Linked DNA regions of Homo sapiens. The protein of the gene in region 1 purifies or fractionates together with the protein of each later gene. This does not show direct contact. Each region holds a gene or a part of one and is shown on either strand. Other genes may lie near its edges. The genes, in order: SCIN and MEX3A.

Region 1 (4,024 bases):
GCTTGAAGATCTTTTTTAAGAATTATTTTCTTTTTTCCAGCCGTCTTAGCAATATTCTATTTTTACCTGATTTCACTTAATAAAAAGTTAGAGAATTTCACATTATATAATTTGTTGCAGAATCCCTATCCCTTGACATATCCTAGCATGGTGTATGCACATAAATTACTTGGTTGGACATTTGATCATTTCCTCCTTGAGCAGGGCATTGGCAAATTTAGACTTCAATTAAATCATCATGCAAAACCATGTAATATGAAAACACAGTTGCATATTTTTTCCATTATTCTTGTGAATTTAATGGAAACAAGAATAAGAATTGCATCAAGTTGAGGTATCAGTGGAATCACAAATTGTATCTCCTACAGGTTTTGCCATATTGCAACTTTGCAGTTCCAATTAGGATGGACCTCTGTGAATTTTAACCATAAGAAACCATGGTACCTGACACTTGCTGTTGCAGTGTTAACCTGCATACAAGATGAGATATTCAACTACATATCCACTAGGAGAACATCACTGGTTTAGGATATCAAAACTTTTTGCCTAGACTAGATAGCATGATCTTTATGTGACTCCTGCTGCCTGTGGATGGCAACTGCAAAACATAGTCAAAATCATGTAAAAAGAAAATACTATATGCATGCTATACAAATCTCACTGGGATGATTATAGGATTATTCTACCCCATAATGCATAGAATTTAATACTTTGGAGCAAAATCTGGCTCCTGTGGAACTCGAGATCTTTACCCGTATAAACTCACCACGTGTAGATAATCTGTCCTCTGGGATAGGTGTAGAGTATGATGTAGCAGTCACCACCATAGAATTCACCATATGAGTTTTGGTCAACTTGGATCCTACCATTGTTTTCTACACGCCAAATCTGGAAGGAATGGAATATATACAACAAATTACAATTTTCTTGATCTAATAATATTTCTCATAAGCTTTAAATAATTTTTGGTTCAAATCCATTATTAAACAACTTTTAAATTATTTATTAACTAGTTTACAAATCAAGCAAAGAAATTGTTATCGATTTGCCAATTTATTGACATTTTAACTACTTTTATGTGTCTTTTGCTTCCTCTACAGTATTAAGCTCAGTTCCGAGCCCATTGATTAATAAATACTTATTGTTTCATCTACTAGTGGAAATAACATGACACTCCAGTGGAATAAAAAACTGCAAGATTCAGCTCAGAAATATATATCTATTTTATAGTTAATTTTTTTCTTCAATTATGAAATAACATATATATATATTTTTTTCCCTGTGCTTTAAGATAGCGGACTATTATTTTCCCAGGCAAAACTTGATAGACTGTGACCAAATACTAAAAATGCTACAACACACTGAATGTTTGAGTCCCTCCACAATGTATGTTGAAATCCTAACCTCCAGTGTGATGGTATTAGGAGGTGGGACCTTTGGGAGGTAATTAGGTCATGAGGCTGGAGCCTTCATGAGTGAAATTAGTGCCCTTATAATCAGAAAGCTCTCTAGCTCCTTTTCCACCATGTGAGGATGCAGCAAAAAGTCTATGAACCTGAAAGTGGATCCTCCACCAAACACTGAGCCCATCAAAACCTTGAGCTTAGACTCCCCAGCCTCCAGACTGGTGAGAAATACATGTTTCTGCTTAAACCCCCAATCTATGGTACTTTTGTTATAGTAGCCTGAACAGACTAAGACCATGCCAATAATATGACTTCTGTTTTTAAAAGGTGCCATCCAGGAATAAGACCGAAATGTGATGCTGGGAGAAAAGCAGGCAGAACCACTTTCATTCTGCCTCCTCATCTTCAGCACAGATTAAACACCCTCCAACTTGGAGAGATGAGAATTGTAGATGAAACAGGAGAGTAACAAACGAAGGAGAGGCTGCCAGGCACTGTGTGTGTACATGCAAGCAAACACACACACACACACACACACACACACACACACGCGCGCACACTTGCCTAAGTTCTCAGTTGGGAAGGGCAGACTCTTTGCTTTGAAATCTGAAGATAAGCAAGTGGACAGGAACAGTGCAGTGCTTCTAGAGAGAGGCCACCCCATACTATCCTAGTGAGCAGAAGCCTTAGATCCTAGAGAGAGCACAAGATCCGAGAGAGAGCCCCCAGATTTCAGCAGCCCTAGGATGGCACAGGAGAAGGCTGCAGCCAGGACACAGCTGGTGCTGGGGACCAAGTTTGCCAGGAGGGCTGAGCTCTGGCAGGAATGTCTGAGCAGGAGACAGATGCAGACCCAGAAGTCAATACCCCTCTGACAACAGCCATGAGGGACATTTGTGACCTTCTCCCTTGGCACTTCCCACTCTCCAACACCCATGCCGCTTAGATTCACGCTTCACGTCTTTGAAAAGAGGAAAAATTATTTCCCTAATTTCTTGACCATATACTTTGGTCCAAGAATTGTAGTAAGCCCTAGGAATATAGAGATGAAATATTTCATTCCTGTCCTCAAGGAATCGATGAGAGCTCTAGGAGAAATCTGGCAGTAAATGAACAACTCTGTGGTAGGTATATGATAAATTATGTGAGAAGTATCGCTAGAGGTTGAGCACAGAGAAAGGCCACTTCAGCGCTGAGGGAAGCCTTCTCAGAAAAGGTATGGCTTGTGATTTAACTGAGTTGCCAAGGAGGCGTAGGAACATTAGCTAGATGGCAGAGGGGAAGTCAGTCCTCAAGGCAGTGGAAGGGTGAAGCCAAGATGACGGAAAGGGTCAAGGGTCCAGCTGAAGATGGATCTTCTCAGGAAGGCTGTGGAGAGCCATTAAATATGTATAAATATATTTAGATATACATTTATAAATATATATGTATATATACACACAGATATATGTGTATATATACACATTTATGTGTGTGTGTGTGTGTGTGTGTATACACACATTTCTCACTCTGTCACCCAGGCTGGAGTGCAGTGTTATGATCTTGGCTCACTGCAGCCTCCACCTCCCAGGCTCACGCGATTCTCATGCCTCAGCCTACCAAGTAGCTAGGACTATGGGCGAGCTCCATCACACCTGGCTAATTTTTGTATTTTGAGTAGAGGTGGGGTTTCACCATGTTGGCCAGGCTGATCTCGAACTCCTGTCCTCAAGTGATCTCCCCCACCCTCCCCCTACATACACTGGCATTAATGGGCTTGATAAAAACAAAAACAGGTAAATACCTCCACTTTGCCAGAACCATCATCCACCATATTGTGCTGGGCTGCCATCTGCGGAGAACTGTGTAATTTTGAGGCATCAAAGGGAATTTGTTTTATTTGAGCCACTTTCTCTGTGACATAAACTTTCCCGAAGCCATCACTCTGATCTTTATCTCTCCAGTCCTTAAAAAACTGTTTGAAGATTGGTGTTTCACCTCCTTCTGGAAGAACTTGAATCTGAAATTTAAAATAATAATAATAGTAAACAGGAAAATAAGAAATTAAGGGAAAATATGAATCTGGCAGTGGAGACAAAAGTAAGGAAATGGAAAATTATCCTGGTTTAGCTATCAAGCTCATATAATCCAAAATTGCTTTTTCTCACAACTAAAGTAATTGCCGCTGAATTTGAATATTTGAGAGAAGAATCAAGTTCTTTAATATGTTACCCCTGCAGTAAAATAAGTTTGTCTTTCTACATAAGGTTCACAAGAGCTCTGTGACCTGGAAGAAATGATCTCATTGTGTTCCTTGTGCAGGGACATAAAAATGAGGAGAGTAGATGAGGCTGAGAGATTCGGAAAGGAAAGGAGTAACTAGCCAGGGTCTAAATTGATTTCGATGAAGACAAATATCATCTGGGTTTCAGGCCAAGTCTGCACAACTTGCTCTAAGGAATAATAACTCTTAAGTGCTCTTAGCTAAACCTACTGTGGTTTACTATCTTGAATTAAAGGCTGTGGAGGAAGTGAATGGGCAGCTCTATGGAAAGTCTGATGTGCAGTTTCTAAAAAATTCTAACCCCCACGCAGATAAAGAAGAGGGACACCAGATTGCAGCAGACAGGCAGGTGGAG
Region 2 (3,500 bases), on another chromosome or scaffold:
ATTGACATGCTTCTCTCCCCAACCCCTAGAAGATCTATGCAACTTCTGATAGGACTCCAACTCCCTTACACTGCTGGAAACTGGTGACAGTTTCCCAAACAGGATATGGGGGTGGGGTGGGAGGTAAAGGGTCATGTTAGGAGGTCGGAGGTCAGGACCAGAGGGCTTAGGGATTGCAAAGAGCACCTCTAGATACAGGTGGTAATTCTCCCTCTCCCTTTTACCCACCCCCTCCTCGGAAGAAGGGGTGGAGTGACACACAGCGGGGGAGGTGGGCAGAGGGCGTCAGAATGCCTTAGTGGCCACCTCTGGCAAAACAAAAGTTTCTCTTAGCTGCTTCCAGATTTAAGGGTGTGTTGAGGTATCAGAGTTGTAACTCTAGTAAAATTTTCAGTCTGGCCCCCTCCCAATCTTTCCAGGACAGGGTGACCAGAGGCTCTGAAAGTGGCGCACCCTCCAGCCACCACTGCCTCCCTCCCCCCTTCCCCAGCGAGCGAGTATCTCTAAGCACCTTGCCCCTCAAATCACCGCTTTCCAAAAGGCTTTAGTGGAAAACAGGTCCAGGGTGGGCCCAGTGGAGTGGGCCCCGGAGGCATGGGGCACGGGGCTTAGGAGAATATTCGGATGGCTTGCGTGGCTGTGATGTGGCAGACGGGACACTCTGGGTCCGTCCTCTCGCAGATGCGTACTGCACACTCCATGCAGAACAGGTTGTGTCCGCAGGGCACAAGGGCGGCAGTCACTTCGCTCTCAAAGCAGACCATGCAATCCCGCCCGCCGCCGGGGCTCCGCAGGCCGCCCCCACCAAGTTTAGAGAAGCCCTGGAGCGGCTCTCCCGGGGGGCGCCTCGGGAGTCCGGCCAGCTCGGGTCCCGCGGAAGTGGCAGGGGAGCGGTGTGCGCCCGGGGGCCCAGCGCGGGCCTTGGCGGAAGAGGAGGAGGAGGAGGAGGCAGAGGAGAAGAGCACGGAGGTGGGCGTGGCGTTCTCCTGGCCCGCCCACAGCGGGGGGCTAGTCTCGGCCACGCCGTAGTACACATCCTGCTTGCCCACGCCATAGCCCGGAAAGAGGTACCCGCCGTAGCCAAAGTCCCCGCCCTGCTCACCCAGGCGTGGGGCCTCAAAGCCAGAGTCCACTCCGCACTCGCCGATGCAGCCCAGGCTGTTCTGCCGGAAGGTGGAGAGGGGCTTGCAGCCGGGCTGGTGCACCCGCCAGGCGTCGGAGTAGCGGCTATCGATTGCTGCGTCGGGGCTCCCCGCCAGGAAGTCGTTTTCATTGTTGTACTCGAGGATCTTGCCAGTGCGCACCGCGATGTGCGTCTCGATCTCCTCGCGCGCACGCTCCACGTTGCCTGGGGCACCCGTGATCTCGAACACGGGGTCGCGGTCACGGCTTGGTGTGATAATGTATGTGTTGGTTTGCTGCTGGATGCGCTTGATGGTTGCCCCTTTGGGGCCCACCACCAGCCCCACCACGCGGTAGGGCACCCGCACACGGATGGTCACCTGGCCGGGCAGAGCAGGAGCCACACCAAAGGCGGCGCCTGACTTGTTGCGGGAGGCACGGATCATGGAGAAGTGCTCCGCTGCTGAGATGATTTCCCGCCGGGCTGTGGCCACGTCCTCCCGTCGCCCTGTCACCATGAACACTGGTTCCTCGCCCCTCACCGGTGTCTTGATGTAGGTGTTGGTCTTGGCCCTCAAGGCCTTAATCTTGCAGCCTGGGATAGGGCGGGGAAGGAGAGAGACAAAGAAACGCACACAGCAAGGTTTGTGCTGGGACCAATAAATTCCTGATCCTTACCCAAATACCTAGCCTCCCAGGAACACTTCAGTCTACCCTTTGAAATGCCCACTGCTGCACACACAGTCCACCCTGACTTGAAGAAACCATTTATCAGATCTCAGATGTGCCTAATGTCTCTCTCAGCCACAGATTTCAAAATGTACTAACTTTCCCTGAGTTCCATTCAGGGCCCTCCAAATTCATTCACTCCTCAAAACCCCCAAATAATCACTGACCCTCCCATACAAGCTGGTAACTCAAATCCATTCACAAACTACACTCCTTTCTCCCAACATTTGCTCTTCCTTCAATTTCTCTACTGATTCCTGGCTACTCACAAACTTCCAAATCACTTAATCACCCCCCACATCTGTCACTGACCCTGATCTTTCCACAGAACCCCAATGTGCTCAGTAACCTCATAATCTACTCATCTGACCCTTGATCATTAAAAGTGTCCTCCAAACTACCCAGGGACCACTGAAGTCTATCTGCTCTATGACCGCCCCACATGCCTTCCACTCAGTAGTTTCTCTCAGTGGGCCTCAAATTCATAGCGAGTTTGCAGCAACGAGTAGAGTGTAGGGGACTGGGAAAGGTCTGACAATCATAAGTTCAAGGAGGAAAGGAGGAGTATGGAGTTAAACTTCTGTGTGAGGGAACAGTGCCCAACCCCGTGTCACTCTTGTCCCCCTGTCCCCTGGGGGCAAGACAGCTGAGCTGGGCTGGGGCTGAGTACGGTGAGGGAGAGGTATTTTGGACCCACACTCCTGCTTTGAAGTAGAAGTGAGTTAAAGCTGGGAGGTTAGGGAAAGGCAGGAAGAGAAAGAAGAAAAATGAGACAAAGAGAGACAAAGAGGGAGAAGGCTAGAGAGAAAAGTAAGGGCTATTCTGTTTCTAAAAGCTGCCGACCTGGGGGTCTGGACAAGTCCCTCTCCTCCTTACCCACCTTCCTCTTCCCTGCTCCTAGCTTCACACAGAGCTTCCAAGACTCATACCCTTTTGGGAAGCACACGTCACGTGTGTGAGTTCACACACATGTACCTAAGAGGTGTGCCTTTATCTAAATAATACTTATGGGGCCAATCTAATGTACACTTTTATACACCTCTTTCACACACACATCAAGTCCCTGTGTTTCGGCCTTTCATACATCCCACTGTCCATCCCCATCCTCCCCAGCACACAAACAGCACATTCCTATACACACCCGCACCCATGACTTTCACCCCCAATCACATATAGACCCACTCACACCCTTCTCTGAGCACAACTCACTATTCCCCTTCTCTCTCCAACCGAAACCAAGTGGTCCTACTTTTCTGCCTCTGCCCCAACCCTCCAACCTGAGACCTGAGGTGAGCTCATTTTTTCCTCCTTCCTCCACTCCAGATGGCTGCTTCTTCAACGCTGGCAGATTGGGGGGTGAGGGGAAGAGAGTAGGTTGGGGGACCCTCCCTCACTTTTTTTGTTTGTTTTTTTTTGAGATGGAGTCTTGCTCTGTCACCCAGGCTGGAGTGCAGTGGCATAATCTCGGCTCACTGCAACCTCTGCCTCCTGGGTTCAAGCGATTCTCCTGCCTCAGCCTCCCGAGTAGCTGGGATCACAGGCACCTGCCACCACGCCCAGCTAATTTTTTGTATTTTTTAGTAGAGATGGGGTTTCACCACGTTGGCCAGGCTGGTCTTGAACTCCTGACCTCAGGTGATCCACCCGCC

Evidence for each region.
Region 2: the proteins of SCIN (region 1) and MEX3A purify together in Homo sapiens (affinity purification with western blotting, with the first as the bait; one study listed by BioGRID). This does not show direct contact.

Annotation. Positions count from the first base shown.
Region 1 is NC_000007.14:12,625,965-12,629,988, reverse strand, and holds part of SCIN (scinderin), read right to left. Parts: intron 3,406-4,024; coding exon 3,190-3,405; intron 889-3,189; coding exon 767-888; intron 1-766. UniProt on the Homo sapiens protein: Ca(2+)-dependent actin filament-severing protein that has a regulatory function in exocytosis by affecting the organization of the microfilament network underneath the plasma membrane.
Region 2 is NC_000001.11:156,075,966-156,079,465, forward strand, and holds part of MEX3A (RNA-binding protein MEX3A), read right to left. Parts: intron 1,718-3,500; coding exon 609-1,717; 3' UTR 1-608. UniProt on the Homo sapiens protein: RNA binding protein, may be involved in post-transcriptional regulatory mechanisms.